Homo sapiens: one gene and its partners. The protein of the gene in region 4 interacts with the protein of the main gene of each other region in a biochemical or structural test. Each region holds a gene or a part of one and is shown on either strand. Other genes may lie near its edges.

Region 1 (7,000 bases), on a different chromosome or scaffold from region 4:
AGAGTAGAATGGAATGGAATAGAATAGAATAGAGTGGAGTGGAGTGGAGGAGTGGAATGGAGTGGAGTGGAAGAGTGGAGTGGAGGAGTGGAATGGAGTGGAATGGAAGAGTGGAGTGGATGAGTGGAGTGGAGTGGAGGAGTGGAGTGGAGGAGTGGAGTGGAGGAGTGGAGTGGATGAGTGGAGTGGAGGAGTGGAGTGGAGGAGTGGAGTGGAGATGTGGAGTGGAGGAGTAGAGTGGAGTGGATGAGAGGAGTGGAGGAGTGGAATGGAGTGGAATGGAATAGAGTGAACTGGAGTGGAGTGGAGTGGAGTGGAACTGAATAGAGTGAACTGGAGTGGAGTGGAGTGGAATTGAATAAAGTGAACTGGAGTGGAGTGGAGTGGAATTGAATAGAGTGAACTGGAGTGGAGTGGAGTGGAGTGGAGTTGAGTGGAATGGAATGGAATGAAATGGGGTAGAGTAGAATAGAAAGAATAGAACAGAATAGACCTTGGGAAGCAGATGCATAGGAGCTTCTGAACCCACCTCAGACACCTGGATATTTGAGTGGTTGCTGATGCCGGACAGATCAGCATGGGAGGTGAAGACGTTACTGATCCCCAGACTGGGGAGGACTTTCTCCAGCTGATAGGAGCCCTCAATGGAGAATTTGGGAAGGTAAAGCTCGAGCTGCCTGGAAAGGGAAAAGGAGCTTTCTTAGACTGTTCTGGGGCATTGGCACACTGAGCCTCACCCCTTGGATTCATAATGCACTGGATTCTTAGTTTTGATGGTTTTAAAAAAGGACTCCTTAACCCAAGGAACAATGGTGGTTATGGCTCCTCTGGCCTCTTTTCTAGGATGAGCCTCCCCTTGCTCTGGACTTGGACGTGGGCTGCCCAGAGGTCTCTGCCCACTCTGGCACCACCCTAAGGAACCCAGTTTCCAGCTCTTGTCCCTCCAACTGGGCTAGGCCCCCAGGACTTGGATGTCACAGGATGCCTCTGGGCCTGGAGGCAGCTCCTTGGCTGGGTGAGTCCTTCCCACCAGTGCTGTGTGGCCCTGGTAGGGCGTGTGTGTCTCCCTGGGGCTGTGTGGGTTTAGGCTGGCCCTGGGGTAGTCTGAAAGTACCTCTTTTTGAACATCTTAAGCCACTTCCTCAGCGTTTTCTCACTCAGTCCATTCTCCACCTGCTGCATCTTTCCCTCACTGGGGAGAATGAACAAAGCCGTGGCATTGCCTTGGTAGGGGACCCCCACCACCCTGCAGGAGAGGTTCCGGTCCAGGAGGTAGTGATACTGATCCTCGCGGCTCATCATGGGTACCCGCACCACAGTCTCCGAGGTCACGTAGAAGTCTTGCTCTTGGGTGCCTTTGTGGTTGAAGCTTGTCTCCCACTTAGCTAAAGATGAAAAAAGGGAAAAATGAAAAAGAATTTTGTGTCAGAATTAGAAATTCTCAGCTGCAAATAAAAGGAGTGAAGACAGTAAAGATAGCCAGCGGAGACCATCTTTATGGCAGCCCCAGAGCAGTGACTGTTGAACCTCTTGAATATGAAGGCAAGTCTCTTTATAACATTGGGCACATTCTTGGACTTTTCGTGGGACTTTTCCTTCCACATTTGCAAAACAAGGAGGTTGGTTTTCACATCTTCAGAGGCCCTGGACCCCTGATGTTCTCTGATTCTCTAACGTTTTACTCAAGACCAAATCTCCAAGTGAAGAGGGTGAAAAATGTGGCTGGCTGTGAATGCTACCTGATATCTGGGTGAACTTCTCTGTTTGCACTTTCATTCCAATATTTTGATTTAAATTTTAGAAAGAAGTTAGTATGGATCCTGGAAATGAATGGTTTTTCCCATTGGGAAGTCTTCAATGACCCTTCTCTGACCTTCCTATGGGAACTTCTGAACAAAACGCTACAAGTGATTGTTTCCAACTTCTTTTTATTTTATTTTATTTCTTTTTTTCTTTTTTTTCTTTTTTTCTTCTTTTTGAGATGGAGTCTCGCTCTGTGACCCATGCTGGAGTGCAGTGGCGCAATTTTGGCTCACTACAGCCCCCACCTCCCAGGTTCAAGTGATTCTCCTGCCTCAGCCTCCCAAGTAGCTGGAATTACAGGCGCCCACCACCATGCCTGGCTAATTTCTGTATTTTTTAGTAGAGACGGGGTTTCACTATGTTGGCCAGGCTGATCTCGAACTCCTGACCTCAGGTGATCTGCCCATCTCGGCCTCCTAAAATGTTGGGATTATAGGCGTGAGCCACCATGCCTGGCCTGTTTCCAACTTCTTAATCGTTATCGAAGGAAGACCCCAGTCAATACCGTCCTTAGCTTATTTCCCAGCTGCCCTCAGCAATCTGGTGTAATGGGGACTGCCCTGCACCAGGGGATAGGAAATCTCAGAGTCCAAGTTCGACACTCACTGCTGTGGTCTCAATGTTTGTGTCCCCACATTGTTCATATGTTGAAACCTAACCCCCAAGGTGGTGGTATTAGGACAGGGGGCCTTTGGGAGTTGATTAGGTCATGGGGGTGGAGCTGTCATGAACAGGATCGGTGTCCTTACAAAAGAGACCACAGAGAGCTGCCTTCCTCCTTCCAGCAAGGATATACTAAGAAGGCACTCTCTATGAACCAAGGAATGGGCACTGCATCTGCCAGTGCCTTGATCCTGGACTTCTCAGCCTCCAGAACTATGAGAAATATATGTTTGTTGTTGCTAAGCCACCCAGTTTATGGTATTTTGTTATAGCCACCCAAATGGCCAAAGATACTCATGATCTGTGACCATAGGAAGGGGAGGTGTTAACAATTTACCTTCCTTCGCAACCCTTCCCACCCTCTCCTCTCCTCTCTTCTCCTCTCTATCCACTCTTGCTTTCCCCAGGGTCAGCAACTGGCAGGAGCTGCAGAGGCGAGCAGGAATGCTTACAAGGAGTGTCGGGGAGATAAGCAGAGGTCAGCTCTTGCTGAGGAGTCAGGAGGAGGCATTTCAGAGGAACAAGCATTTGTCTGAGGGAGTCTTGGCCTCTATGAGGGCAGAGGGGCCAAGATCTGAGGGATACGGGGGACTGGGAAATGCCCTTTAAGCCCTTCTGGGGTCTGTGTCCTGCCCTGAGTGGCTAAGGTGTTGGTGTCTTTGCCATGGTGGCCACAATGGGTTCATACTTCAGAGCCTGTAGAAAGCTGGGGCTTCAGATGTCCCCAGGGGCCCGAAGACAGCAACCAGCTCTTCCTCCGTGGAGGAAACAGCATCTCAGCCTCACTAATCCCATCCACAGCAAGAAGGCATTCATCTTACCTTCTCTGGCTGCTTGTTTACTTAATTTTTCTCAACAGGCACCCAAAAGAACTTAACGTACTCCCCGTCTTTTATGTATGTGAGGGAATTGGGTATTCTTTAGATAAAAGCAGCAGAAAAGCCAAAGAAAGTGCAGGTTTGGGCCCAAGGGCCTTACCTTTAAAGAAGATGTAATTCACCATGATCACGACCGCATTGCTATCGAGGTTCTTAAGCAAGTCCACAATCTTGCCCTTCGTTTGCTTTGCCACATAATCATTGATCTGCTTCATGGCCCCTGCAGAGTCCCTAAAGTTGGTAGGGAAAGTGTCTGCCAGGTACAGCGTCTTCATGGCACTTACGAAGGTGTCCTGCAGGTCTACCACCAGGTCGGTGAAAAGGGCATTGCCGAGGCTCAGCTGGAAGCCATCTCTGGGCTGGTTGAGTTCCTGAAGGAGCTGCTGAAAGCCTCTGTGCAGCTCCTTCTCTGAGCTTTTCTGGAGGTTGAGGCCCAGGCCCTCCAGGATCTGCATCTTTGTGCTGGACCCAGCCCCCAGGGAGAGCATGGCCAGGCTCATGGAGATGCTCACAGGGGAGAAGAAGATGCTCTGGCTGGGGGCAGCGGAAGCCAAGGCCCTGTAGAGGTCAAAGGTAAAGTCCCTTCTGCTGCTGGGGGCCACCGTGGCACCTACATGGAGGTCCTCGACTCTCTTCTTCATCTCCCGGGGGTGGTGGCGGTGAAGGGAGGCCCCCTGAGGGCTGAGAAGCACCAGGCACAAGAGGAGGAAGAGCTGCATGGTGGCTGTTCTTTGTTCTGAAAGGGAAAGAAGGTGTCCTCAGAGAGGGGTGGAGCTGGTCCAGGTGCTGACTTTCCAGAGATGTCCCCACCCAACACTCAATGGGTATGTTTGGTCCATTCAGCTTCAAAGAGAAGGGATGGCACCCGCAAGACTGGGCATGAGGGTTTACACAGGGTGGCAGTGGCTCGAGGACAAGATTTAGGGATGACGGGGAGAGGAAGGAGGGAGAGGAGGTGCAGACCCAAGGCAGGGGTCTGGCTGCCAGGGCAGGAATCCTGTCTACCCATCCACATCAAGGGACACATTTTGGAGGATGGGATATGGAGGGAGAGGGTTCCCTCTGCTCTGCTCTGTCTCATCAGCATCTCGAGGTTACCAGGGAACTAAGCTGCTTCCATGTGAGCTTCTGGCCTTCACTCTGGTGTCCTGGTTTGGCACATGGCAGGGCGCTGTGGTCCTTCTATGAACTCAGACCAGCTACATGCCTGGGACCATCAGCACTGCTGGCCTTGCCCTGTTCATTCAGCAAACGCTGAGTGAGTGTCCACCCTGGGGTAGGCAGAATACCAGTATGCAAACTGTCCCCTTCTCCTTCCCCCAGGGGCTGCTCCATGCCACCCTTGTCCCACAGAGAGACATCTTCCCCTCCTAAAGGAATTCTGCCTGAACCTCTTCATGTGGACATCCCCACCGTCCTCCTGTTCTGGCTGAATTGTGCCCCCAAAATGCATATGCTGAAGTCCTTACCTTCAATACCCCAGAATGTGACTATATCTGGAGATAGGGCTTTTAAAGAGGGGACTGAGTTAGAATGAGGTCACTAGAGTGGGCCCCAACCCAATATGACTACGTCCTTACACAAAAATTAAAAAGAGGAGATCAGGATAGAGACATGCACAGAGGGAAGACCAGGTGAAGACAGGGAGAAGGCAGCCACCTGTGAGCCAAGGAGAGGGGCCTTGGAAGGAACAAATCCTGCTGGTGCCTTAATCTCAGACTTCCAGCTTCCAGAGTTGTAAAGAAAGAAATTTCTGTTGTTGAAGCCCCCTAGCCCCTGGGACTTTGTGACAGCAGCCCATGCAGGCAAAGACATCTTTTCATCTTCCAGATGAGGAGGCACTCATCTTTGTCTCTAGCTCTTCTCAGGGAGGCCTTTGTGGGGTCTCCCATCACTCCTGACGTGGCCTTGGCCTTCAGTCCTCCTCTTCCTCCCTCCACTTCACCCAAGAGCCGTTCCTGTGCCCATGCCTCCCCATCTGGCTACGGGTAGAAGTCTTGCCTCCTCCCTCTGCAGTAGGAAACAGCTCAGGCTCTGAAGCCACTGCCTGGGTTCAAATCTCAGCCCTGCTGTGTCCTTGTAGTGTGATTTTGGGCAAGTCAGTTACACCTTGAGCCACTGCTCCATAACTGTAAGATAGTGATAATAACAGCACCTACACCATGGGGTGCTTGGGGGCACGTGCTATGGAAGTGTGAGCAGTAGGCATGGCAGTTTCTGGCAAAAGCCCCATCTGAGGCCTCCATATTCTCAACTGTACCATAGGGTACATGCTTTACACACACACACACACACACACACACACACACACACACACGTGTGAGCCTGACAGCACCCAGGCTGGCTAATTACCAGGTGCAGAGGGCCTGCCTGGCTTCTGATGTGAGCTTTGCCCTGTGTGTCGCCTTGGAGGGAATCCCTTTCTGCTGGGCTCTCTCCATGGGCACAATGTCATCAGTGACCCCAGATCCCCACCAGGCAGGGGCAGCCTGTCACAGCATCCCGTGACCCAATTAAAACCAAACTCCAAAGGGCCCCAAACAGGTGGGTGGGAAATCCCTTGCAGAGTGGCCGTGGGGCTCAGCAGTGGAGAGAGAATGGTCTCAGGAATTGGGCAGGCTTGGACTGCAGGCCTGTCTTTAAGTGAAGTTGAATAGCTCCAGCAGGTCACCCTTGCCAGCCCAGCCTCCAAATTGTGTCCTGAGCTCCTTCCGAGAAGGAGCCTCATGTAGAAGTTTCTGCCTGCAGAATCGAACCTGGCACCAAACCCAGCAGCCACAGCAGTTGGGCGCATTGCCCGCACCCTCTTTCAGGCACTGTGCCAACTCCTTCAGCCCTGCACCACCCAAAAAGGTACATCTTGCTGCTAGCTCTATTTTACAGATGGGTAATCCGAGGTTCAGAGAGATGGAGTCGCTTGCTAACACTGGCAAAGCTTGGACTCAGACTCGGTTATCACTCTGACTCTGCAGAGTCCTGCCTCCTCTGCAGAGTCCTGCCTCCTCTTTTCCTGGCTGCATCTTCCTGATTTTGAAATCCCTGACTTAGTAGCCACCAACAATAGCCCTAATCTGCAGATAATGAGTGAGCAGAGTCTGGGCTTCCCCCCACTGACACTCCCTACCTGTTCCCACCATGGCACTTGCCTGGAGAGCTTTGAAGGACATAGGTGGGTGCTTTAATCTCCGGCTTCTCTAAATGAGTCTATTTTACAGCACAATATGGTCCCTCCTGCCAAGGGTTGGAACCAGCCATGTATGGAGATGCTTCTAAAGAAACAATGTGGCTCAACCCCCCACAGGGTCACACTGAGCTGATAATTTCGAGAACAGCTTCAGAAGCAGGGGAGTTTCCTTATTGGATACAGCCCAGGGGCAGCTGACCAGAGAGTCTCAGTGAGGCCCTGGCCTCCATTCTCCCATCTATTCAGCTACTAGGTCACCCTGGGCAAGCCTCACCCCCTCTGGGCCTCAGTTTCTTCATCTGCAGTCTGCCATGTGTTGTGGACACCCCCTCAAGACCCCGCCCCCTGCCAAGCACTAGAGATCCGATGGGGAGGAGCTGCTTCTCCGGGTGTGCACTGAGTCTCCCCCAGGATCTGTTTGGAGAGGGCCCCAGGTTCACTTAGGCTCTCCTGGGCTACATGTTTGAGACCC
Region 2 (8,028 bases), on a different chromosome or scaffold from region 4:
TAAGCCTTGCCCTGGCTAGAGTGGGTCAGACCAGAAAAAGAGATGCCTTTCTATAATTTGTCAGTTTAGAGGAGGTACCTTTTGTAATTTGCACCAAGGTGCCCATATGTGCAAAGTTTCCTCCAGGGACTGTCCAAGGTACAGGAAGCTACTCTCATTAGCTCCACCTGAGGAAGCTGTGGGAGTAGGTGTCTCTACGGCCCTGGGCAGAGTCAGGAGGCCTTTGTGCTGGCCCACTCTCTGAGCCTCAGGTTCCTTCTGCGTGATGTTAGAATGGATGCCCTCCAGGTTCCCCCAGTTCCCTGTTCTAAAGGCCTGTGACTCCTATGAGGCCATCCTTCCCTCCGGAGCTTCCCTGCCAGGTGTGACCATGTGGCCCCAAGAACAGATGAGCTCCCAGAAGTACTCTAGGCTCCCCGCTTCTCACCCACCCTGAGGGCCAGGACAAGGACTTAGCATATGCTGGCATTCCCTTCCTTTGCCAGTCCTGCCACTTGCTCTCCCCCTCTTGGCCCTGGCACCAACTGGTCTCCTCTGGCATGACCGTCCCTTCTTTGGACTTTCTCCCGTACTTTTGGGCACCAGCCCTGCAACTAGATTGCCCCTGAGATTCTCATTCCTGGCTGCTCCTAGGAATCCCTGAAGACCTGTGGAAAAGGCAGATGCTAAACTCACCAAGATCCCTAAACCAGCATTTCCAGGGGTGGGGCCCAAGCACCTGAATTCTTAACTTTTATTTTATTTATTGATTTATTTTTGAGACGGAGTCTCACTTACTCTGTCACCCAGGCTGGAGTGCAGTGGTGCAATCTCGGCCCATTGCAACCTCCACCTCCCAGGTTCAAGCAATTCTCCTGCCTCAGCCTCCTGAGTAGCTGGGACTACACGTGTACACCATCACACTCAGCTAATTTTTGTATTTTTAGTAGAGACAGGGTTTCACCATGTTGGCCAGACTTGTCTTGAACTCCTGGCCTCAAGCGATCCTCCCACCTTGGCCTCCTAAAGTGCTGAGATTACAGGCTTGAGCCACCACGCCTGGCCAAGGCACCTGGATTCTAATGTATCTCCCAGATGATGTTGATGCCTGAGTGAGAACCACCATGGTTCATGTCTTAAGAGCAGAGACGGTGTTTCTCTGCTGTGTGTCCAGCATATAGACTGGTGCCTACGTGGAGAAAGAGCTCTATAAGTGCCTGCCATGTTGGTGGGCGGGAGACTGCCATGGGTTTCAGCGAGAGGCAGGGCCTGGGTGGCTGTTCTGTTGGCCTGTAGCCCTGGAACTCCAGGGGCCCCTTCTATGGAGACCACATAGGGCCAGGGTTCAAGTGTGACAGCTGGAGAGAACCAAGGCATCACGTGCTCTGACCCTTTTTTTTTTAACATGAGTTTAAAAAGATTTACATAATTATATTAATACTGAATCTTTGGTAAACTTGAGAAGCTGGCGATGGTTTTCCACATTCAAAAATTCTATGATTTGCCTTTGGAGCTGCATCTTTTACAAAGGCTCTCCCTTGGTGGCGATTTTGGCTAATGCTCATAGACGTAACTATGCACGGTATTGTCTTCTCTTTTTAAATGAACATTTTGTGGAAGGTAATATACACACATAATTTTTTAAAATCCAAACAGTTCAAAAAGCTGGTTTCTTTCCCAGTTGAGACTGCGCCCAGCCCCTGGTTTTTCTTCCCAGAGGTAATCACTGTTACTCACTCTTGTGGATCCTTCCAGAAAGAACTTATGCACATACAAGTAAAAATGTATTATTATATAAATCCCTTTTTCAAAGCAAATGTCAGCATCATACTCATTCTCTTTTGAATGTTTCTTTTTTCACTTTGTAAACTGAATCTTGAAGATGATTTTTTTATCAGCAGCCAGATTTGCCCCATTCTTTGTCACAGTGTTGTGAGGCCCCATGGCCCCGATGTCCCTTTATGCACTGCACTAGTTCCTGGCCAGTGGGCAACTGTCCATTTATGAAGAGCCCCGGGAGGGCCTAAGGGAGGCCCCCACAGCCCCTTCTTTCCTTTTCTGTGCCCTTGGTCCTAGCTGCTTGTTTCTCTGCCTCAGTCCCCACCCTCATCCCCTTGGACTCTCTTCTAGCCTCTGCTCCCTGGGGGGGTGACAGCCCCGTCCATTGCCATGACATTCCACTGATGTTGTCTCAACACAGCCTGGGGTGACCTCACTGCAGGCGGGGCTGCAAGGGCAAGTCTTGCTGTAGCCAAAGCAACCGAGGGACACCCCAATCCCCAGAGGCTACAAAGCAGAGCAAAGCTGCTTCTGGTGGACTAGTCTGAGTTACATTTATTTCCTGAAGGCTGTGATATGCTACAGAAATGAGAATTCATTTCTTCTTCTTTTTCTTTTCCCTGTGCATCAAGCAACAAGTGAGGTGCCTTTATATATTTTGTATCATAAAATCTTCATGAGAAGTCTTTGAACAAATACCACTGTCCCCATTTTACAGTTGAGAAAACAGGTTGGAAGACTCCAAAGCCCAGCCTGTGCAGCTCTCCCTGGTAAGGGCTGAGCGCTGCCAGACTCCCAGGCCAAAGGTTTGGTTTCTTTAAAATATTGGGGATGAGGGGAGGAGAGAAGAGCAAAGATCAGTTTGGATGATCTGGAAGGTTCTTCCCAACTCTAAGGGTCAGGGATTCTTATGATTCTGACAACCAACTCTGCTATGAGAGAACTCCCCCAAGCCCCAAAGCCCACTTTACTCAAGTTCCCTAGATGACTCAAAAGGAGGAAAATGAAGGAAAGGAGCATGAGGACACACTAAGGAGAGGGGGACCTGCTCCCTGGAAGATGGCACAGGGCTCTGTCCCCCTCCTTACCTTTCTTGGCATTTACAATCTTCTTGGGCTTCTGGGTTGGTGGCTCGGTGGTGACCTGGGTCAGGAGGGAGAAGAGGCAGAGGAGGAGGTAGGCCCCCCAGAGCTCCATGCTGCTGCGCGGGCGGGGGCTGCTGCTGCCTGCAGCGGGTCTGGGTCCGAACGCAGTGACAGCCACGGCCCAGGCTGCACGTCTTAAGGCAGCAGCCAAAGGACCTCTGTCCAGGAAACCCTCCCCAACTTGGCTGCAGGCGTGCCAAAAAAATAAAACAAACACACAAGCCTGCAGAAGGATGAAGTCCTGAGGGCCACAGAGCCTCTCTGCCAGGGAACACCCACGCAGCATCCTGGCCCTGCCTTCTAGAAAGAAGCCCTTATTTCCTAGGATTCTGAGAAACACACGGTGGTTGTCATCACATCTGCGGAGCAGCTACCTTGGGTAGGGGCTGAGGCTGGCTGTTCACTAACATTAACTCACAGAAGCTTCACACCCAAACCACGAGGGAAGCACTGTCCTTTCCCCATTTTACCATTGAGGAAATTGAGGCTCGGTGAGGTTAGGGAATTTGCCCAGGCTACCCAGCTGTCACGGGGTAGCAATGCCCCCTTATAGGGTGATCTGGGGCTGGCTGTCTGATTGGTTTAGAATATTTGTTATGATTATTTTGTGGCTCTGTCTCCATGTACTTGATGCATTTTTTGGTTAAAAAATCCAAGGGATTCCTTCCCTTCTTGTCTTCCCTTTCTCCTGAGTCCTGTCCTAAAGCCACAAAGTGGGGCATAGCAAAGGTGGCGGAGGGAGAAGCCATCGTGCCCCAGAGGTACCAGAGAGGATGTGGGGAGAATGTGCCCTCAAGGGGTGGACTGGTGTGGGGTGTGGGAGCCCAGCAGGGTGGAGGGAGCATCCTGGGGAAAGCAAAGGCCCTGCCTGGAGTGCTGGAGTCCAAGTGAGGCAAGGAGGGGATCCATGTGGGAGAGAGGCTGGTGGCAGAGACGGGAGATTGGTTACACACAGGGATACTGATCAAATAAATCTACTGAAGACAGTGGGAGTTAGGTTTCCTATTGTCAGAGAAGGAAGTTATGTATATGGAGAGAAAACTGGAATGAATCCTGTTGTGTGGGATTAAAATCGGAATGATCAGTGTACCCTTGTGGCCTTGAATACATAAAGATAAGTCCATATATATAGATGGAAATGTGTGTGTGTCTAGTCCCCACAGTCACTGGGGGGCCTGGAGCAGCCAGCCCCGCATAGCCTGGAGCACTCCTAGCACCTGAATACTGGCTTCTGAATATGACTTTCCACTAAAGGAACCAGAGCACCTTGCAGAAACGGCTGATTCTAGCACTGGGAAGTAGGAGTGGGGTGCAGAAAATGAGCCCGGAACTTGTTGTTTTGCCAGAAAACAAGGAAGTGCTTAATGAATAATGGGAACACGTCAGTAGGACACAGAGCCAGCTTGAAGGAGCCTTCAGTGGTCAGAATCAGGGACAATTTGAGCACCAACATAGTGACAGTAACAGATGGGAAACCACCAGTGCACACAGATATAAGTAAGTAAGGGAACGCATTGAAAGTCTGATGTTCTTCAATGGGATGTTTACATAGCCTCAAAGTATCTGCCCACAAAACACTTATCCATTCCAGAGAGAAAAAGAGCAACTTCATGGTGAAGAAGGCTGGCAGACATCACCTCATCTGTGACCAAAGTAAACATCAACAGGGCCAATAAAAAGCTTGCAGCACCTGGGGGGCTGCAGTGAGAATGTGGCATCACTCCATAGGACTCCGGCCAGAGAGACATCAGACAATCCCAAATGGAGGAGCATTCTGCAAAATGACTGCCAGTAATTTTCAAAGCTCCTGGCTGAGGAAGTGTTTCAGGCTGAAGGAGACTGAAGACACAGAACTAAATGCAATATGTGATTCTGGACTGGACCCTCCATTCTCAAGGATGCAGTTGGGACAACCAGAGAAATCTGATGGGGTCTGAGGAGCACACGGCAGTGATGTGTTGTCACATGCTGCATCATGACAGTTCAGTCAACAACAGGCCACATATGTGATATGCTTCCATAAGATTATAATGGGGCAGAAAAATTCCTAACACCTAGTGATGTCACAAAGGGTTGTAAAGTCATAGTGCAACTCATTATTCCCAAGTTTGTGGTGATGCTGGTGTAAACAAATTTACTGCCAGTCATATCGAAGTAGAGCATATAAGGTCATGTTAGCACATAATACTTGATTTTGTTAGTCCGTTTTCACACTACTCTAAAGAACTGCCCAAGACTGGGTAATTTAGAAAGGAAAGAGGTTTAATTGATTTACAGTTCCACACGGCTGGGGAGGCCTCAGGAAATTTACAATTGTGGCAGAAGGTGAAGGGGAAACAAACACCTTCTTCGCAAGGAGGCAGGAGGTACAATGAATGCAGGAGGAACTGCCAAACACTTATAAAACCATAAGATCTCATGAGAACTCACTATCACAAGGACAGCATGGGGGAAACCACCCCCATCGTTCAATGACCTCCACCTGGTCTCTCCCTTGACACATGGGCATTATGAGGATTACAATTCAAGATAAGAATTTGGGTGAGAACATAGTCAAACCATATCATTCTGCCCCACATGATTGTGCTTTGAAATGTGAGAGCATGAGATTTGGGAGGGGCCGGGGTGGAATGATATGGCTTGGCTGTGTCCCCACCCAAAATCTCACCTTGAATTGTAATCCTCATAATCCCCATGTGTCATGGGAAAGACCAGGTGGAGGTCATTGAACCATGGGGGCAAGTTTCTCCCATGCTGTTCTCGTGATAGTGAGTCTCATGAGATCTGATGGTTTTATAAGCATCTGGCATTTCCCCTGCTTGTACTCACTCTGTCCTGCTGCCATGTGAAGAAGGTGTCTGCTTCTCCTTTGCCTTCCACCATGATTATTAGTTTCCTGAGGCCTCCCCAGCCATGCAGAACTGTGAGTCAATTAAACCTCTTTCCTTTCTAAATTACCCATTCTTGGGCAGTTCTTTATAGCAGTGCGAGAATGAACTAATACGATGATAATAAATGACCGTGTCACTGGTTTATGTATTTACTGTGCTATACTTTTTATCATTATTTTAGAGTGTACTCTTTCTACTTTTTTTTTAAAAAAGTTAACTGTGAAACAGCCTAAGGTGGGTCCATCAGGAGGTTTTCCAGAAGAAGGCACTGTTATCATAGGATATGATAGCTCCATGTGTGTGACTGTCCCTGAAGACCTCCCACTGAGACAAGAGGTGGAGGTGGAAGACAGTGACACTGATAATCCTGACCCTGTGTAGGCATGGGCTAATGTGCGTTTGTGTCTTAGTTTTTAACAAAAAGTTTAAAAAGTAAAAAAGTAATAATAACTAGAAAAAGCCTATAGAATAAGGATATAGAGAAAATAATTTTGTACAACTGTTCAATGTGTTTGTGTTTTAAGCTAAATGTTATAAAAGTAAAAAAGTTAAATGAGTTCAAAAGTTTACAAAGTAAAAAAAGTTATGGTAAGCTCAGGTTAATTTATTATTAAAAAAGAAAACCATTTTTTAAAAAAATGTAATGCAGCTTATGTGTGCAGTGTTTTATAGAGTCCAGAGTAGTGTACAGTAATGTCCACGTTCACTCACCACTCACTGACTCACTCAGAGCAACTTCCAGTCCTGCAAGCTCCATTCATGGTAAGTGCCCTATACCAGTGTATCATTTTCTTTATCTTTTATATCAGGAGTCCCCAACCTCCAGGCTATGGACCAGTACTGGTCCACAGTACTGGTCCGTGGCCTGTTAGCAACTAGGCCCATCAGCAGGAGGTGAGTGGTGGGTAGGCGAGCATTACCACCTGAGCTCCGCCTCCTGTCAGGTCAGCAGCAGCATTACATTCTCATGGGAGCACAAGCCCTATTGTGAACTGTGCATGAGAAGGTCTAGGTTGCACACTCCTTATGAGAATCTAACGCCCAATGATCTGAGGTGGAACAGTTTCATCCTGAAACCATCACCCCAACCCCGCATCCGTGGGAAAATTGTCTTCCATGAAACCAGTCCCTGGTGCCAAAAAGGTTGGGGACTGCTGTTTTATACCATATTTTTACTCCACTTTTTCTATGTTGAGATACACAAATACTTACCATTATGTTACAACTGCCTACAGTATTCAGTGCAGTCACGTGCTGTACAGGTTTGTAGCCTAGGAGCAACATACCATACCTGAGAGCCTAGGTGTGTAGTAGGCTATGCCACCTAGGTTTGTGTAAGTACACTCTGTCATGGTAGCACAACGATGAACTCGCCTGACAATGCATTTCTCAGAACGTATTCCCATTGTTAAGCAACGCATGACGGTATCCCTGTTATGGTCCTACTTGATGGTGTGCTGTGATTATGTAGGAGAGTGTCTTTGTCTGTAGGAAACACACATACTGAAGTATTAGACAGCGATATGGTACTGTGTTGACAACTTACATAGTTCAGGGGGAGAATGTTCTTTGTACTGTCGTTGCAAATTTTCTGAGTTTGAGATTCTTCCAAAAGAAAATACAATACTATGTACTTCAGGCTTTTCCCTGCCTTCTAGGGACCCCACCTTCCCCTGTCTGACTTAGGGAGGGATCTCTTATGTAGTAGGCCAGGGAAGCAGGAGGCCAGCTGGGCTGGCCCAGTGCACAGTAGTCCTGCCAAGGGTGGGGGCCCTGAGCACGGAGCAGAGCATTTGCACGGCCCCTCAACGACACTGGGCTCCACCTCTCACATTCTCAGAGTGGGAAGGGTTTTATATTCACAGCTGGGCCCTCGGGAGACAATTTGGAGCCTGATGATTACATAACCTAAAAGGGGCCTTGTTCCTGGAACTCTGGGTGGGTAGCAGATGGTAAAAGAAAATTAATATTTTTGTTAACTGCTTTGCTTTCTTGGTTTTCTCACCTTGGCCCAACTCTATCTTGGCCCTTCAGTGGTAGGAAAATGAACGAAGTATGCTTTCTAAACATGAGGCAACCAGAGGCCCCATGTTTTCCAGGGCTGGCTGATGGTTGAAGCTATGGGGACTGTGGTGGCGTCTCACAGGGCACCGAATGCAGCCAGGGCAGGGCAGAAGGAAGGTGGCCCTCAGGCTGAGGAAGGGACACAGAGGGTGTGGCCAGCTGAGGGGAGG
Region 3 (3,395 bases), on a different chromosome or scaffold from region 4:
TCTAATTAACTCTCCCGTGACGTGCCAAAGTGCATATTTTTATTTTTAGTTTGCTCGTGTGGTTTATTTTGGGGCTTTTGGGAAATTGTAGCTTGGATTTTACTTACAGCAACAAAACACAGTGATACACCAGACTTGTAAACTCCTTTAGGCATATGAAGCCAAATGAATTTTCAATGATTTGGAAAAATGAGCTATAGGTATCTGAGATTTGCATAGCTCTGTTGTTTTTTTCTAACAGGTCTTGTCATGAAGCAATACGAAAGATGTCCAGTTTGTATTCTTTTGCCTACGCTATACACTTATTTCCAAGAAATTACAGTGAGAATTTTTGTGGAGTACCTGTCTTCACCTCACTTGTTATTGCTTGTTATGCATAAGTTTATAATGCTATTTTACTATGATGTTTTGATCCTGCATAAGAGATTTAAGAGGTAGAGAAACATTGTTTCCAAAGTTCACCTAGAGATATCTTTATACTACAACTTCTAAAATAAAAAAATAGATCTAGTCACATGTTCAATAGGTACTTTTATTTTAAACAACAGCACACAAACACAATGACATAACAGGACCATTAGCTTAATACTGATAACATTCCTTGACAAGTTACTTATAATTTACATATATTGTTTTTATCTGGAACTATTTTAAATATTATCTTAAGATATACTGTAAAACACAAATCCTAAATATATACCAGTTGCAAACATAATGTGCTTAGTTACTGTTTTCCTTGTTATTCAAATAAAGTAACTTAAAGTTCTTCGAAATCATGTCCACTTGTGTTCATTGTTTCAGGATGCATGACTCGTCCCATGAATAGAATTGTACCTGTATTGGTTCAGAAGTAAACAAAAGAGGGGGTGAACAAAATAATAAAATATTTATCTTCCTTCTTGCTTACAATTAATGAAAATATGTTATTTTCTCCTTCCTTCCTTCCTTCCTTCCTTCCTCCTGTCCTTCCTTCCTTCCTCTCTCTCTTCCTTCCTTTTCCCTTTCCCTTTCCTTTCCTTTCTTCTTTCCTTCTAGAGAAAGGCTCTTGCTCTGATGCCCAGGCTGGAGTGCAGTGGCTCTATCAGAGCTTACTGTAACTGTGAACTCCTGAGCTCAAGCATTCCTTCCACCCCCAACACCTCTAGTAGCTAGGATAACAGGCATGTGCCACCATGCCTGGCTAATTTTTTAAAAATTTTATTTATGTAGAAATGGGGTCTCACTATGTTACCCAGGCTGGTCTTGAATTCCTGGCCTCAAGTGATCCTCCCTGCCTGGAACTCCTGAAGTGCTGAGATTAAAGTCTGAGCCACCTCACCAGCCTTATTTTCATTAAAAAAAATCATTTCAACATTATAAACTATCTGATAATTCAGTTGGTCAATCTCTGGAAAGAGAATAAATAAATAAAATTGTGAAAAGAAATTATATGATGAGTACTGAGGAAAAAAATCTCCATTTAAAAAAGAGGTTCTTTGTGACCTATTAAATAAAATTTTGTTTTCATAATAAACTTACCAGTTCTCCTGTTTCTGATAAGAAAGAAAAATGGATGGTCGACAATAACTTGAGGATACAGCACAGCCATCCTACTAATTGCAATCATTCCTACAGTGCAGATAAAAAGTAATTATATGTCTGTGGATGTGCAGAGACTAATGAGTAATTCCTCAAAACCATCTATGCCTATCCACCTAATGCAAAGACAACAATTTACAGGAAACAAGATTTTAAAGACTTAACTGGAGAAAAATTATAAAGGTGTTAACATTTCTACTTGATCTTTTTAAAAAGCAAAACGAAACAAAACAAACACACACCACAAACAAAACAAACAAACAATTTCTTCCTTCTACTCCATTAAAAATAATAGGACAATTTATTCTGCTTGTTATGAAATGTTTATTCTCAGCCTCACATAAATATGTGTGTCTTTACTAAAATGACTTTTGAGTAAAAGGAAGGGGGAGAATAAAGAAAAAAATCCCCAAACAAAAACTGAAGAGAGTTTCTCTATATTTTCAAATCATTATTTCTTTTGTCTGAAGCGGGTATTTTTACATAGGAAGTCACCAGGTTTCTAGTAAGTGGTCAAGATGGCAGTGATTAAAGGGAAAATATAACAGTGAGAGATACAACGAGGTATCCTATGACTGGGCTACTAAATTCCCCTGAGATCCTCATTATAAGATGATATATACTTGCTGCAGTATAGTTAATTGTCAAAAGAAAGTCCAGATTACATGTAAGATTTCAAGCTGTCTTGATGCCTGAGGCTACTATGCTCTTATTTACTTCGGAAAATACTATCCTATCATGAAAGTGATAGAGGTGGGGTATGTTGGGATAGTTAGTGGGTACGAAAATACAGTTAAATAGAATGAAGATCTAGTATTTGATAGCACATCAAAGTGATTATAAGTCAACAATTTGTTGTACATTTAAAAATAACTGGAAAAGTATGATTGAAATGTTTGTAATAAAAAGAAATGATAAATGCTTCAGGTGATGAATACCCCATTTACCCTGATGTCATTATTATGCATTACATACCTGTATCAAAAATATCCCATATTCTCCATAAATATATACATTTGCCATGTAACCATGAAAATAAAAAATAAGAACTTTTTGCTGACAAAATTAAGAATCAACTTCAGCAAATAATTTGGTAGGAAGAAAAATGTTTAAATGGGTAGCAGGAAAATATTTAAAATATTTAAACAGGCAGCACAGCAGAAAAAATCTATTTTCGCAGAACTGCCAATGTCCTCCTGTCTCTCATTAGAGAGAAAATGAAGATGAGAGTTATCTGTAAAGGGGCACTGGAGTGAGTTCACACTTCACATTCTATTTAGAAAATTCCGGCTGGTTCAGCATTTGCTTGACTTCTAAGTTAGAGCAGAGTGACTTTTTTGGCTTCATTTTGAAAATGACCCCACTCCCCACTCAAGATTGCTCTAAAAATACAAATCTAGAAGAGGGGAGAAGATTCTAGCAAACAGTACCTGAGACAGCAGCAGCTTCTGAGCCTTCTTCATTAACCTCTAGGAAGGACTTGTGAATTGCTTTGGAAAGAAAAATCTCCTTATTATCTGCAAAAAGAGAATCAGAAATTTTTTTTTTTCATTCAGAGATAGGAAAATATTTTGCCCTTTTGTTAAATGGATTTTAGAGATCTAAGAGACTGGGATACTGAAGAAAACCTAGGAGATAATGTTAAAAGATTTCATTAATGAGATAACCATTGAAGATGTGGTTTTTAATTTGCCCTCATTTTATATTCTTTTGCTAATTTTCTTTTCTGTTTTTATTGGTGGTTTTCCCATATGTATGTCTTATATTTTCAGAAAAAGTGGAAACTTTTTTTACTAGTGACTTCAAATTATTTCATA
Region 4 (7,046 bases):
ACTGTAAGTCAGACCCTTGCTGCTTCTGAGGTCACTGAGGCCAGGATAACCTGGTAGGAAGCAGGATGCCATCCAACAACGAAGGCATTAAGAGTCCAGGTGTGACTCGCTCTGGGGAGTGAGTCACCCTTTTTAACACCTTCACAAAGGGTATTGCAGAGTCTTCCAGACTCGAAGGAACTGGGTCGTGAAGGAGGGAAATCGAGGGCCTAAGTTGGTAGTTTTGGACCTGAAGCTGGGCCTCGCATTCCTCAGCCTTCTAGAGTCAACTCTAGATGTGGACTTAGAGACCCCACCATGTCGAGGGGTTGCCTGGGTGGGACATCCCAGTTGGGACATCCCGGTTGGATCAACAGAGGGAAATGGATACACAGGGATGTTGTTACCAAAGCTGCCGGTGCACTGTGGTGGGATCACAGCCTAGGATGAGACCCAGAGCATGGGCCTGGCCTCGGCTGTGACTGCCCTGGCCGTGCTGCTGGCGGCTGTGTGACCCTGGGCAAGCCACTTGCTCTCTCCTGGGCTCTGCCTTTTGATCTGTATAACCAGGACCTTGGGCCAGTGGCCGCCCCCCCCAGCCCCCGCTAGGTTGTGATCCCTGACAGCCTGGCTCCTTGGGGGGGAACACCTGTTTCTGCTCCCCTCAGAATCAGAACCCGCCCAGTGGCCGCAGCTGATGGGAGAATGGTGCCGACACAGGCATCTCTGTAGAATCATGCTGCAATGGCACTGTCACACCGTAGGCAGGTGGTGGGTGGAAGAAGGCAGGTGGTGGGTGGGTGATGCACCCTGCACCCCGCCCTGCCTCCCTCCCTGATGACCCCATGCACCCCTCAGCTTCACCCGACCTTGGTAAGATCTGGCTCCTCTTCTGAATCGGGCATGGATTTCCTGCGAAGAAACCAGAGGTGGAGGAAGGATCAGCACATGCCAGGTGTACTAAGAGTAAAGGCGGCCAACCCAGAAGCCCATGTGAACCTGCCGGCCAGATACCTCTGCTCAGAGACCCCCTCGGGTAACTGGCCCAAGTGAAAGTCCATCTCCTGCCTTCTAGTCCAATTCTTCCTCTCCTTCCTGACTGGCTCTGTCCAGAAGAGCTTTCTGCTTGGTGGAAATGTTTTCTGTCTGTGCTGTCCACGACAGAAGCCACACAGGGCCACCGAGTGCTTTGAATGTGGCCAGTGGGACTGAGAAACAATTTTTAACTTTAATTATTTTAAATTTAAACAGTTGCACAAGGTAAGTGGCCACCATATTGGGCAATGGAGTTGCAGCTGGCTGTCTACTCCACGCAGTCACCTGGCTCTCCCCGCTGTAGGGTCCTGTGGGAGAGGTGTGGTTAGTTTGGACTTCCGTGAGGCCCTTTATTGCTAGGCATTTTCAGAGAGTGTGTGTAGCGCTTCCATCTCAGCTAGAGAGTAGGCACCATGAGGGCAGTTTGCCTCTGCTGTGGCTCATGGCACTTGCATTGCCTTTTTCTTTTTTTTTTTTTTTTTTTGAGACAGGATCTCAGTTTGTCACCCAGGCTGGAGTGCATTGGCGTAATCATATCTCACTGAAGTCCCAACCTCCTGAACTTAAGCGATCCTCCCGCCTCAGCCTCCTGAGTAGCTGGGACCACAGGTGCATACTAGTACACCCGGCTAATTTTTAAATTTTTTGTAGAGACAGCATCTCACTATATTGCCCAGACTGGTCTCCAACTCCTGGGCTCAAGCGATCCTCCCACCTCGGCCTCCCAAAGTGCTGAGATTACAGGTGTGAGTCACTGTGCCCTGTCCTGCATTGTCTTTTATAAATACAGTCCACTTTGTATATCTGCAGGTTCCATATCTGTGGATTCAACCAAAACAGAAAAATAAAAAATAATAATATAAGCTGGGCTTGTGGCTCACACCTGTAACCCCAGAGTTTTGGGAGGCCAAGGCTTAAGCCTAGGAGTTTGGTGCTGCAGTGAGCTATGATTGTGCCATTGCACTCCAGCCTGGGTGACAGAGTGAGACCCTGTTTCCAAAAAATATATAAATAAATAATACAACAATAAAAATAACACAAATTAAAAAATACCTTATAACAACCATTTACATAGCATTAACATTGTACTAGGTATTATAAGTAATTTAGAGATGATTTAAAGTATACAGGAGGGTGTGCATAGGATATGCAAACTCTACACCATTCTATATGAGGAACTTGAGTATCCCTGGATTTTGGTATCCTTGGGGGTCCTGGAACAAATACCCCATAGATATGAGGGACAACTGTACTTTATGGATTAATTTGAATACATTCTTTAAAAACAGCTGCAAAAAAAGGCAGTCACAGGCAGGGAGTGGCATGTTAATTCCGCTTACTCAGGTCAAAATAAGTGCCTAGGGCCCAGCTACACACTGGGCCCCCAAATACAGAGTTTGCTGTACAGAAGGGAGTGTGTGCTGTGTGCTCCACAGCAATGCCAGCCCCTCGTCCCTGTGCCTCTCTGCTCCCTGACAGCATTCCAACCTCCGTGGCCCAGATGGACACAGACCCCTGGAGCCTCCGGAAGCATCACAGCCTTGAGGGGCGGGACACAGGGATCCTGCACACCAACCTGGCTGGGCGAAACGAAGACTGCTCCACACAGCAGCAGCACACAGCAGAGCCCTCTCTTCATTGCATCCATGATTGCTTCACAGCGTCCCTTAAATTCTGGAAGGAGAGAAAAAACAGCTTGATCACGGGGTGCGAGAGGTCCATGATGGCAACAGAGGAGGATAAGCCGCAATGTTGTCCTGTCTGGCTTCCTCCAGTGCCAGCCCCGCGGCAGAAACGCCAGACATGCATCTAGAAGAGGATTCTAGAAACTACATATTTTTTATTGTTGCAAAATATATATAACACAAAATTTACCACCTTAACGATGTTCAGTGCACAGTTCAGTGGCATTAAGCACGTCATATTGCTGTGCGGCCGGCCGTCACCACCGCCCATCTCCAGAACTTCTCCATCACCCCTAACTGAAACTCTGTAGCCATTAAAGAATAACTCCCCATTCCCCTTTTCCCCAGCAGCCACGCTGCTACTTTCTGTCTGTATGAACCTGACTGCTCTACATACATCCTAGAAGTGGAATGAGACAGTGTTTCTTCTTTTGCGACTGGTTTGTTTCACTTTGCAAATGTCTTCAAGGTGCATCCATGCTGTAGCATGTCCTTTTTTTTTTTTTCTTTTAAGATGGAGTCTCGCTCTGTCGCCCAGGCTGGAGTGCAGTGGTGTGATCTCGGCTCACTACAAGCTCCGCCTCCCGGGTTCATGCCATTCTCATGTCTCAGCCTCCTGAGTAGCTGGGACTACAGGCGCCTGCCACCACGCCCGGCTAATTTTTGTATTTTTAGTAGAGACGGGGTTTCACCGTGTTAGCCAGGATGGTCTCGATCTCCTGACCTCGTGATCCGCTCGCCTTGGCCTCCCAAAGTGGTGGGATTACAGGCGTGAGCCACCGCGCCCCCGCTGCCTTTTTTTCTTTTTCCTTTCTTCTTTCTTCTTTCTTTTTTTTTTTTTTTTTTTTGAGACTAGGTCTCGCTCTGTCATCCAGACTGGAGTGCAGTGGCATGAACATGGTTCACTGCAGCCTTGACCCACCAGGCTCAAGAGATCCTCCTGCCTCAGCTTCCCAGAGCTGGGACTTCAGGCATGTGCCACTGTGCCTGGCTGAGAGAGAGAGAGAGAGAGAGAGAGAGTGTGTGTGTGTGTGTGTGTGTGTGTGTGTGTGTGTGTGTGTAGAGACAAGGTTTCTCTATGTTGTCCAGGCTAGTCTCGAACTCCTGGGCACAAATGATCCTCCTTCCTCAGCCTCCCAAAGTGCTGGGATCAGGCGTGAGCCACCGCGCCCAGCATTTTTCCTTCCTTTTTAAAGCTGAATAATACTCCACTGTGGGATAGAACACATTTTGTTTATCCATTCGTCTGTCAATGCTGGGAGATAATTTTGCCCAGAGATTTCTGTGGGCTGAAGGGCTAGACCATTTCTGAGACATCTTGGCAGCCCAGAGACCACAGCGCTCTGGCTTGGTTTCCTGGAAGGGAATTCCTGCCCTGGGCTTGACTAGATGGAGCCGCAGTCATGTCCTCTTGGACTTCTGCAGCGGAAGCCATTGGGATTTTATTGCCAGCACATCATAGAGCCAGCCTGCCTTAGACTGCTCAGGTTCCTCCACGCAGGATGGAGCCTACTCCCCTGCCTGAGGTTCTCCCCACAAAGCAGAGGCCCCCCAACCCAACCTCCACGCCCACCCCCCCCACCGCTCTGCCAGAACATCTGTCTCCTTTTTCATAGACTGCAGCAGATCCGGCAATGTGCATATTTGCAGGAAGGAGGGGAGGCAAATGATGTTTGGTCGGAAGACTCAGATCTTCCTGGACCCCAGAGCCCCAGTTTCCATCTGCCTCTCCTCTGTGATCCTGCCCTCGGCAGCTAAAAGTAGGTTAGTCGGCCGGGTGTTATTTTGTGGTCTGGCGGCCTGTTCCCTCCTTCATCCACAAAAATTAAAGCATGGCATTTCTTTCCCTGACTCATTTCCCTTCGGTCACAACAACTTCAGGTCCCACCCTCCCCCTCCCCCTCCCCCGAGCGTCCTAGGGGCCTGGAGGCACAGGGGCTTCCAGGCCTTGCCTCCCTGCCTGGGTCCGGCTCTGGATCTTTGATTGTTACTTCGAAACGAACTCCCCCGTGGGAGGTGCTGATCACCCTCCTTGCCTCGCTACATTTCATGCCTGACAGATTCTCCCCGGGCTCCTGTGTCAGGCAGAGGAGCTTAGGGAGAGGGCGAGGGAAACCTGCAGGAGGCTCCGGGTACAGCAATTCCAATGAGAAAACACAGCTCAGAGGGAGGCTCGCCAGCGTGGCATCCTCTCAGCCTCCCTGCACCTGTCCCATCAGGAGGGAACAGAAGTGCCATCTCCAGCCTTTGAGCCCGCAGTGCCCAAGGTCTCCCTGGAGTGCGCTCTTTGGGTGTCCCTTTCTCCCCGGGAGGAAGCAGCTGTGCTACTCCCTGGCTCCAGGCAGTTTCAGAAGAAAGGGAGTCAGGAGCCAAGGCCACCCAGAACAGGAGTGCGGGGTGGAATCTTCTCATCACAGAGACTTACTCCAGATCTTCTCTTTCTCAGCTTTCCTCAAATTTCCTGTTTCTCAAAACTGCCCAAAATTCCTCTTAAATTCCCCTTTTAAATTTTATCCCATTACTTAATCTTGTAAAAATAGCTCATGTGAAACTCCCTCCCCATTTCTCCTTGATGTTCATGTATCTCTAGGTTGCCCCACTCCTTACTCTTAAGCAAGACCCAAGGATGGTGAGAGCTCCCACCTCACAGGAATTGTGAATGAAACAGCAAACGAGTGAGTACAAGGAACTTGACCTTCTTCATCACGCTGTCCACACCACCCAGCCCTCTCGATAGGCTCCTGCACCCCAGCCTGGGATACAGTTTGGGTGTTTTTTCCAGATGCCCACCAAGTTACTTCTTTATTTCAAGAACTCAAAGTCCTTCCAAAAGGAATGCAATCCCAGATGCCGGGAAACTGCAATGTGAAGAGTGCAGTATGGACATGTTGGCATTGCCTGGGAACATCCCCCTTTCTGGATAACTAGGGGTGGGGGGACCAGATGGAGGAGAAGCACGACCTAGGGCTGGTCCACACATACCACCCGCTGCATCATGTTCAACCCTTTTGCAACTGAACGGTCTGAATAAGAGATAAGAGAGCAGGAGCATATTTTTGTCTTTGCTCCTGAGAGAGTTGGAGACTTGTCTCTTCTCTTCCTTGGCTTCCCTGGACCTTCCTGCGCCTTGAGCTGATTCAATGCAAGTGAATCTCACCCCAGCAGGGCGATAGCTCTGTCCGCATCACACAGAGGCGATTCGAGCAGCTGAAAAGGCCAAGTGGGGTAAGAGATGACAAAGAAATGAGTCATCCGGCCAGCAGAAAAACAGTGCAGTCTGAAAACAAGAAAGAGCGAAGAGAGGGAGGAAAAATGAGTCCTTGTTTCGCCTTCGCTGAAGAGGTGGGCGTCGAGGTCTGGGGCCAGTGACGGGATGCAGAGCAGAGTGAAAGCCAGAACAATGGACTCAGACTCGGGACCGCAGGGCGTGGCTGGGATGGACTTTGGGCCTCACCAAAGGGAGGTCCATGAGTGCTCTGGCGAGACCCGGGTGAGAGATGACATTGGCGGAAGGGATGGAAGAGGCTCATTTTTATAAATAGACTTCTAATTTTGTTCTGTGTTATCTCCCTTTTGCTATATTTAGTAGCTTCTCAGGATCATCAAAGAACTGAAAAAAAAAAAGGCAAATGAGAAGAAGGAAGGAAGGGGGTAGGAAGGGAGGCACAGAAGGATAGAAAAGGAAAAAAAAGAAAGGATGAAAGAAAGGAAGGCCCCAAGGTTGGCTGACTTTTGCTGGGCTGGAATCCAGAATCACTGTATGAGAGGAGAGGTGGAATGCTGGTCCCCAAGACCCCAAGGCCTAGCCCTGTCAGGCCACCCTAGCACACAAAGTTGATTTTTGCAGATTTGCAAAAGGTACCCTCTCTGTTGGATGAAGTTCAGCAGTCTCAGGGCATGGCAGGTTGACAAAGAATCTGTGCAAATTAGAAAAAACAGAGTCCGTGGGTTGGCTGATAGAGTGCAGCCCGGATCTGAAGGATGTGTGTGTAGGCACCTGTGTGTAGGACACAGCCAGCATATCTGTGCTCGGCCAGCCCTGTCTGCTTCCAACCTGCATGTGCATCCTGCAGAGCAGCTCTGACCTTCCTGCCTGGAAGCCGTGTTTGGTCTGTTGGCTGTAGCAACCAGAGTGACTCTGTTCCTGGGCCCTGCCAAACAACCTGTGAATGATGACTGTTCTTGGGGAAAACGGGAACAATAGTCTGGTAACCAGGAAGTGGGGTACCGTGCTGTAAGCTCACTTTCCTGGGAGATGTACTGTTTCCCAGAGCCAAGGATGCATGCCGTTTTGGCTGAGAAATTGATGATCATGCCAACCAGAAAGGTGGTGTTCATTTCTTTGGT

What was found.
Region 1: the proteins of PLAT (region 4) and SERPINA5 form a complex in vitro, tested with the Homo sapiens proteins (one study listed by BioGRID).
Region 2: the proteins of PLAT (region 4) and CLEC3B form a complex in vitro, tested with the Homo sapiens proteins (one study listed by BioGRID).
Region 3: the proteins of PLAT (region 4) and SERPINI1 form a complex in vitro, tested with the Homo sapiens proteins (one study listed by BioGRID).

What each region holds. Positions count from the first base shown.
Region 1 is NC_000014.9:94,584,426-94,591,425, reverse strand, and holds part of SERPINA5 (plasma serine protease inhibitor preproprotein), read right to left. Parts: intron 4,081-7,000; 5' UTR 4,064-4,080; coding exon 3,445-4,063; intron 1,386-3,444; coding exon 1,115-1,385; intron 678-1,114; coding exon 530-677; intron 1-529. UniProt on the Homo sapiens protein: Heparin-dependent serine protease inhibitor acting in body fluids and secretions. Inactivates serine proteases by binding irreversibly to their serine activation site. Involved in the regulation of intravascular and extravascular proteolytic activities.
Region 2 is NC_000003.12:45,021,290-45,029,317, reverse strand, and holds the start of CLEC3B (tetranectin), read right to left. Parts: upstream 3,016-8,028; 5' UTR 2,956-3,015; coding exon 2,847-2,955; intron 1-2,846. UniProt on the Homo sapiens protein: Tetranectin binds to plasminogen and to isolated kringle 4. May be involved in the packaging of molecules destined for exocytosis. Plays a role in retinal function.
Region 3 is NC_000003.12:167,822,686-167,826,080, reverse strand, and holds the end of SERPINI1 (neuroserpin precursor), read right to left. Parts: intron 3,096-3,395; coding exon 3,009-3,095; intron 1,609-3,008; coding exon 1,519-1,608; intron 835-1,518; coding exon 758-834; 3' UTR 512-757; downstream 1-511. UniProt on the Homo sapiens protein: Serine protease inhibitor that inhibits plasminogen activators and plasmin but not thrombin. May be involved in the formation or reorganization of synaptic connections as well as for synaptic plasticity in the adult nervous system.
Region 4 is NC_000008.11:42,190,524-42,197,569, forward strand, and holds part of PLAT (tissue-type plasminogen activator isoform 1 preproprotein), read right to left. Parts: intron 2,689-7,046; 5' UTR 2,663-2,688; coding exon 2,591-2,662; intron 892-2,590; coding exon 849-891; intron 1-848. UniProt on the Homo sapiens protein: Converts the abundant, but inactive, zymogen plasminogen to plasmin by hydrolyzing a single Arg-Val bond in plasminogen.